Linked DNA regions of Homo sapiens: region 2 is linked to region 1. Evidence: fine-mapped QTL for protein levels in blood plasma. A gene starts in region 1. The other region holds a variant in brackets. All regions are shown on one strand. Distances are from middle to middle. Region 1 holds the start of KLKB1 (kallikrein B1). Region 2 overlaps KLKB1 (kallikrein B1).

What was found. PIP is the posterior inclusion probability: the model's chance that the variant is causal. Protein levels are from antibody-based Olink assays in UK Biobank. Linkage for the fine-mapping came from a reference panel and not from the study's own genotypes, which makes the PIPs less certain.
Region 2: its variant is fine-mapped to the plasma level of the KLKB1 protein (UK Biobank, PIP 0.98).

Annotation. Positions count from the first base shown.
Region 1 is chr4:186,226,390-186,229,309 of GRCh38, reverse strand. KLKB1 (kallikrein B1) reads right to left here and starts at 1,803. Exons shown (of 15, transcript NM_000892.5): 1 at 1,723-1,803; 2 at 1,057-1,115. The coding sequence starts at 1,114. RefSeq lists an enhancer at 2,626-2,920.
Region 2 is chr4:186,256,218-186,259,137 of GRCh38, reverse strand. KLKB1 (kallikrein B1) reads right to left here. Exons shown (of 15, transcript NM_000892.5): 14 at 1,773-1,912; 15 at 667-1,117. The coding sequence ends at 926. Among named protein-coding and RNA genes, the nearest start is that of F11, 8.5 kb to the left of the region's middle. The variant A/G (reference allele first, on the strand shown) is at 1,157.

The DNA.
Region 1 (2,920 bases):
TTGGGGACTACATGCAATATGTAGTTTCTAAATTTTTGCTTACTTACATCCCTGATTTTCCTAGCCATAATCATGATTTATTTTGCCAAAAAACAAAACAAAACAAAAAAATGAAAAACCCCCTGTAGTTGGCTGTGGTTCCCAGTGTCTCTGGCTTATGCTCCTTCTCACCTTTCAGTGGGTTTGCACATGGGTTTGTAAATTACGGTTTAGAAGAGAAATCAGGGTTGAGGGACAGACACAGGGGAGTTGTGATTTAGGGGGAATAAAAGTCTTTTTTCCTGGAAAAAAAAAGGTCTCTTTATGAATGTAAACCTTACCTATAGATGTTTATTGTAGCCATACATCTGAGGAAAATTAAATACTCATTGTTGTGTGGCCCTCTTAAGTCACCATAGACCCAGAATCATGCCTTGTGGGGACACAGAGAAAACTCCCTCTGTAATGATTAATGAAATGTCCAGAATCATTTTTATTCTCCAAAAATTAATGAAATTAATAGAGAAATGAGATCTAAATCTGGTGTTGAAAGCTATTCACCTAGAACTATCCAAATGCATGGTTTGCTAAGTTAAATTTAAACCAGTTACTTTCATTTTTGAAATGGTTCCCTAGCGGTCCAGAGTAAAACTATGTATGGTGTTCCTAACAGATACTTGGATTGGACCCAGACACTATAAAATGCCTAGCACTCTTTTGAATTTTCAGATAAAGTTTAATTTTTTACTGTTGATAATAAAAATAGAGGACTAATTTTTTTTTGTTTCAAGTTTTGCTTTGCAGAGTGTCATCTGCGAACAGAAGTTTTTGTTAACACAAGTCCCAAGACATTCCTACTTCTGAGCTCCTTCCTCTGGTCTGCAACATATGTCTACAGCAATATACCTGACAAGTGGTCCTTGTTGTGGAACATTAAATAGACACGTGTCCTGAATCATCAGGGACAATCTCCACCCCCGAAGCTGTATGTTCAATAGCTTTCTCCAGGGGTGGTGCCACTTGCTTGGCTACTCCTGTCTTAGCCTGAATTCCATGTTTTATAGATAATTCACTTACCACAGGAAACTGTAGCAAACAAGGAAATGAAATAAGTTGCTTGCTTGAATAAAATCATTCTAAAAAAGAAAACAATACATAACTCTGCTGGTTTTAGACCACATTTAACATAAATCTTAATTTAAGGTGATTTAGATTTTCTTGTAAATGTCTGAATTGCAAGACAAAGCACACAATTACTGGTATAGAAAACAAGGGTTTTTTTTTGGTACATTTGTGTCTAGGGAGTTGGAAAATTTATAATGCTTCCCAAGATACAAATTGAGACCTCCAGACTACTGTTGTGTTTATTGTTCATTGGCCAACTCTGTGGCTAGTAATGTTGGAAAGGGAATTGGTAGAGAGAGAGTAAACAATTATGAAACCTCTTGATTTGGGCAAAAACAAAATTAATAAATAATGGCAATAATGTCAGTCCAAAAATCCCTAAGTAAAGAAAACCTCTGAAAATATTAAAGCCCATTTAAAAATTTTAAATCAATCAAATATTCTTTCTGATTTAAAATCATCTTACATTTAAATATTTCTACATAAAGGAACATTATCTATACTCTCTACATACTCAGGAAATTAGAATATAAATGATTAATTTTCTCATAAAGTAAAAAATTATACTTAAAAATTATAGTTTATTTGGAAACAATCAGAATAATAAAAATTTGCTACCTGAAAACACAATTGCTTCTTGGAGGTGAGTCTCTTGTCACTTAAAAATGAACGGTCTTCAAGCTGTTCTAATGTGGCACTGCAGGCAATATTTTGCTTGGCTTCAATATTGACTTTGGGTTTCTGCCAACAGTTTCAACTTTTTGTCCTGTCAACATATTCCATGAACATCCTATCCGTGTTCAGCTGTTAAGTATATTAACTATTTCAGGGAGTGATGTCAGCAAGAATAGGAATAGGAGTTTGTCAGAACAGGAGTTTCTAGCGCTCATCCCTTGCAGAAACATCAATTCGAACAAGTATCCATGCACGAAAATAACTTCACTAGAGCTAAGGAATCAGGTGAGAGGTTATGCCACCTGGTTGCAGCACAGAAATAAGAAAAGACACATAGAAGTGTATAGGAAGGACAATTTCACATTACCGGTGTCATCTCACCTTCAAGCCTGGGCAGCACAGTATGGAGAGAGATGCCCTCTTGCATGGAGGAGGGACAGTTAAGATAGAACCTAACTTCACCACAGATCCCAAGCACCAAGCCCACTCCAGTAAACCCCAGCACCAGGATTCAGGCCTGCCACAGGCCAGACCAGCCTCTGTGGCCTCAGCCCCATGCTCACCCCAGACCAGGTCAGCCCCTGGGGCTTCAGGCTCCAAGATGGCCACACAAAACCTAGACTTCAGGCCTGCTCCAGCTCTAGCCTGGCCCCCAAGACTCTATCTAGCCTCCACGTTAGCCCCAGCAACCCCAGGCTCCAAGTTGGCACCCATGGGCCTAGAATCCAGGCCATCCCCTGCAGATCCAGCACCAGGTCAGCCTCCAGAGATCTTGGCTCCATGCTGGGCCATGTGGACCCAGATGCTGGGCTCACCCCAGTGGACCTTGTTCCCAGGACAGCCTGAATAAACTCAGGAACAGGCCTATCCCCATGAACTCAGGTGCCAGGTGATCCCCATGTTAGGCTGGCCCCTGCAGACGCAGGCTTAAGGCTCATTTCAGTGCCAAGTCAGCCCCCAAGGATCCATGCTTCAAGCCAGTCCTTGTGCACAGAATACAGACAACCACAGTGAATGAACCCAGAATCCAGCCCTTCCCACCTTAGAACTCCAGCAGAAATCCTGTGCATAGACCCCAACAGACAGCCCACCAACAATCTCTGGTCAATCTGACTAGTGAATGGCTTTCTCTGCTGAAGCT
Region 2 (2,920 bases), 30 kb before region 1:
CCTCCTGCCTCAGCTTCTGGGGGAGCTGGGATTACAGGTGCGCACCACCATGCCCAGCTAATTTTTGTGGAGATGGGGTTTCGTCACATTGGCCAGGCTAGTCTCGAACTCCTATGCTCAAGTGATCCACCTGCCTTGATCTCCTAAACTGTTGGAATTACAGGCGTGAGCCACCACGCCAGGCCTAAAAATGCTCCTTGAATTACTATTGCAATAGCCCATATCCACTGAGCCTCCAGGGCTAATGCCCCTTGCAAAGCAGATTCCTTGCCTGCCATGAAGGCTGTGCAATGCTGCAGCCCCTCGAGCTCCTCAGCACGCGCAGCCTGGACCCTCCTAGCCATGCCCTGGTAGCAAAGTTAGGAGGCCAAGAGGCAAAGGTGCCCATGGGTTCAGGTAACCCATCTCTTTCTTATAAAAGTGGGTGTTCTCCCTTCCTCTCGGCAGAACAAAACCCAAGCCCGCTAGCTCTTTGCCACACGTGAAGCAGGCAATAGTGGGTTTCAGTGGCCGACCAGGTGCAGCACGGAGAGGAAATTACATCTTTGAGATATACTGAGTTCCAGAGGAAGCAGTGCAATTAGAGGGATCCCAGGAACTGTGCTGGAACCTCAACCACTTACTTTCAGTTCTGTTTCACAACCAGAAGAAAACACTTGCTAATCGTGATCTTTCACCATTTTATTTCACAACACACAGTCATGGAGATCTCAGTTGCGACCTCGCATTGTCAGCCCCTGGTTACGGCGTGCTGAAAGCGGGCTTCAGCCAGACATTGTCCTCAGCAGCTCTGAGTGCACTGTGTTTTTCGTCCTTAGGATGCAAAGAAGATGCCACTCTCCATGCTTTGCAGATGAGGACCCCCCAGGCTCAGAATTTGACTTGAACTCAGGTTGTAAAAATTGCCTAGACTCTGGACTGCTTCTCATGCTGGTGACTGCATCTGAGCTTTTCCATCACTGCTCTGTGTTTTCTCTAAAATCCAGTCCATGTACTCAGCGACTTTGGTGTAGACACCAGGTTGCTCCCTGCGGGCACAGCCTTCACCCCAGCTGGTGATGCCCACCAAACGCCACATTCCATTGTGTTTGCAAACTAAGGGACCACCTGAATCTCCCTGAGTCACAGTGGAAAAATAAAATAGTAGAAAGTTACG[A/G]CAATGGGATTCAAATAAGTGACTGCCTCTAAAGTTCTGTAGTCCACTACACAGCAACACACACACACAGATACTTTCATATTTTTTTGTAGAGATGGGTTTCATCACATTGCCCAGACTGGTCTCAAATTCCTAGGCTCAAGTGATCCACCTGCATTGGCCTCCCAAAGTGCTGTGTGTGTGCAAGACCTTGCTTGCCAGACACACACACACACACACACACACACACACACACACTCACTCTTTCTTAAAGTTCTCCAAGTATCTCATGTGCCTGCATTTTTCGTATCCCCTTTTCTATCTGAAATAAATCTAACAAAGAAATCTTGATATCATCATCCCAATGATGAAGTCTAATGTTTTTATATTCTAGCACAATTATTGCATGTATATTTGCCCCTCTTAAATAGCACATGCATAGATTGTGACATATATCATAAATAATATAAATATATATTATGTATATTCAATTTGTTAAAAGTTGCTTATCAATTTATCAGATCATTTGTCTCTGAATTTTTTTAAAAACTATGATTGAATTATGCTATTGGAAAATATATTTTGAAATGAATTTTCTCAAGCAGCCTATTGTGTTTTTCATAATCTCATGAGTTACCTTACAAGCATCTTTTCCCCCTTCTTTATAGCCAGCACAGACCATCCGTTGGGTTATTTTATAATCTTGATATCTTTTCTGGCATTCTTCATTTGTTACCAAAGGAATATTTACCTTTTGTAGAATATTTTGGATTTCACCTGTGAGTAACCAATATATAACCTCAGAGGGAAGTTAATAATAATAACTTAAATAATAAATAATAATATTGGGAATATTATTATTCCCACAATAAATAATAAATATGGAAATAAGTTTTAAAGTGAATCAGAGCAGTGTATTTTTCATAAGGACCTTATCTTTGAATACAAATAGACAGTAAAAATTGGGAAGGTAGTGTTACACACACACACACACACACACACAGAGAGAGAGAGACAGAGAGAGGAAGAGGGAGAGAGACGGCACCCTGTACTGTCCTCTTATTGCCTACGTGGTGTTGGGACAAGCCCAGCACCCTGGGCTGACCAGAGACCTTGCTTCCATGTTTTCTGCCATCCCCTCATCTCAGTAGCAGCCCCCCAGAAATCCCATTTTATATTTATCACCTACAACAATCCAAAGCCTGGAAGTTCTCACTTTTCATTTTTTTGCTTTATATATTCAAAATTATAATTTACAACTATATCGTTTCTGAAAAGCCCTCCGAGCTTTGGCAACAGAGGGGTCTTTTGTTTTTGAATAAATGCAGGCCAGCATCTCTCATGGAGAACAATGTTGGGAGCTTTCATGGCTTAGTGAAGATTACTTTAAATTTCTTCTTGTCTCAGATTACCAATAAAAAATCTAAAAATGTGAATTACTTGAACAAAAGACTGAATCGGGAAAGATGGAGACAGTTTGGCAAGCTACCTTCTTCTGTAAAGAATGACACAAATATTATTCTCCATAGTGAGACGACACACCTGCCTGTGCTCCCGGCCATTAGCATCAAGGGAGAACATGGTTTTGGGAGACGGGAACGCTACTAACACTGAGGAGCGGGTGGTCTTGCACGGGCTTGTCAGCCCTAGAAGGGCCCAATCTGCTTCATGCAAAGTCAAGCAACTGATCTTTATAATGAAGTAAGATGCTTAAAAGTCTCCCTAAAATTTTTTTTCAAGCCAAAGCAAAAATACATTTTTTAAGAATAACTGAATAAATATTTG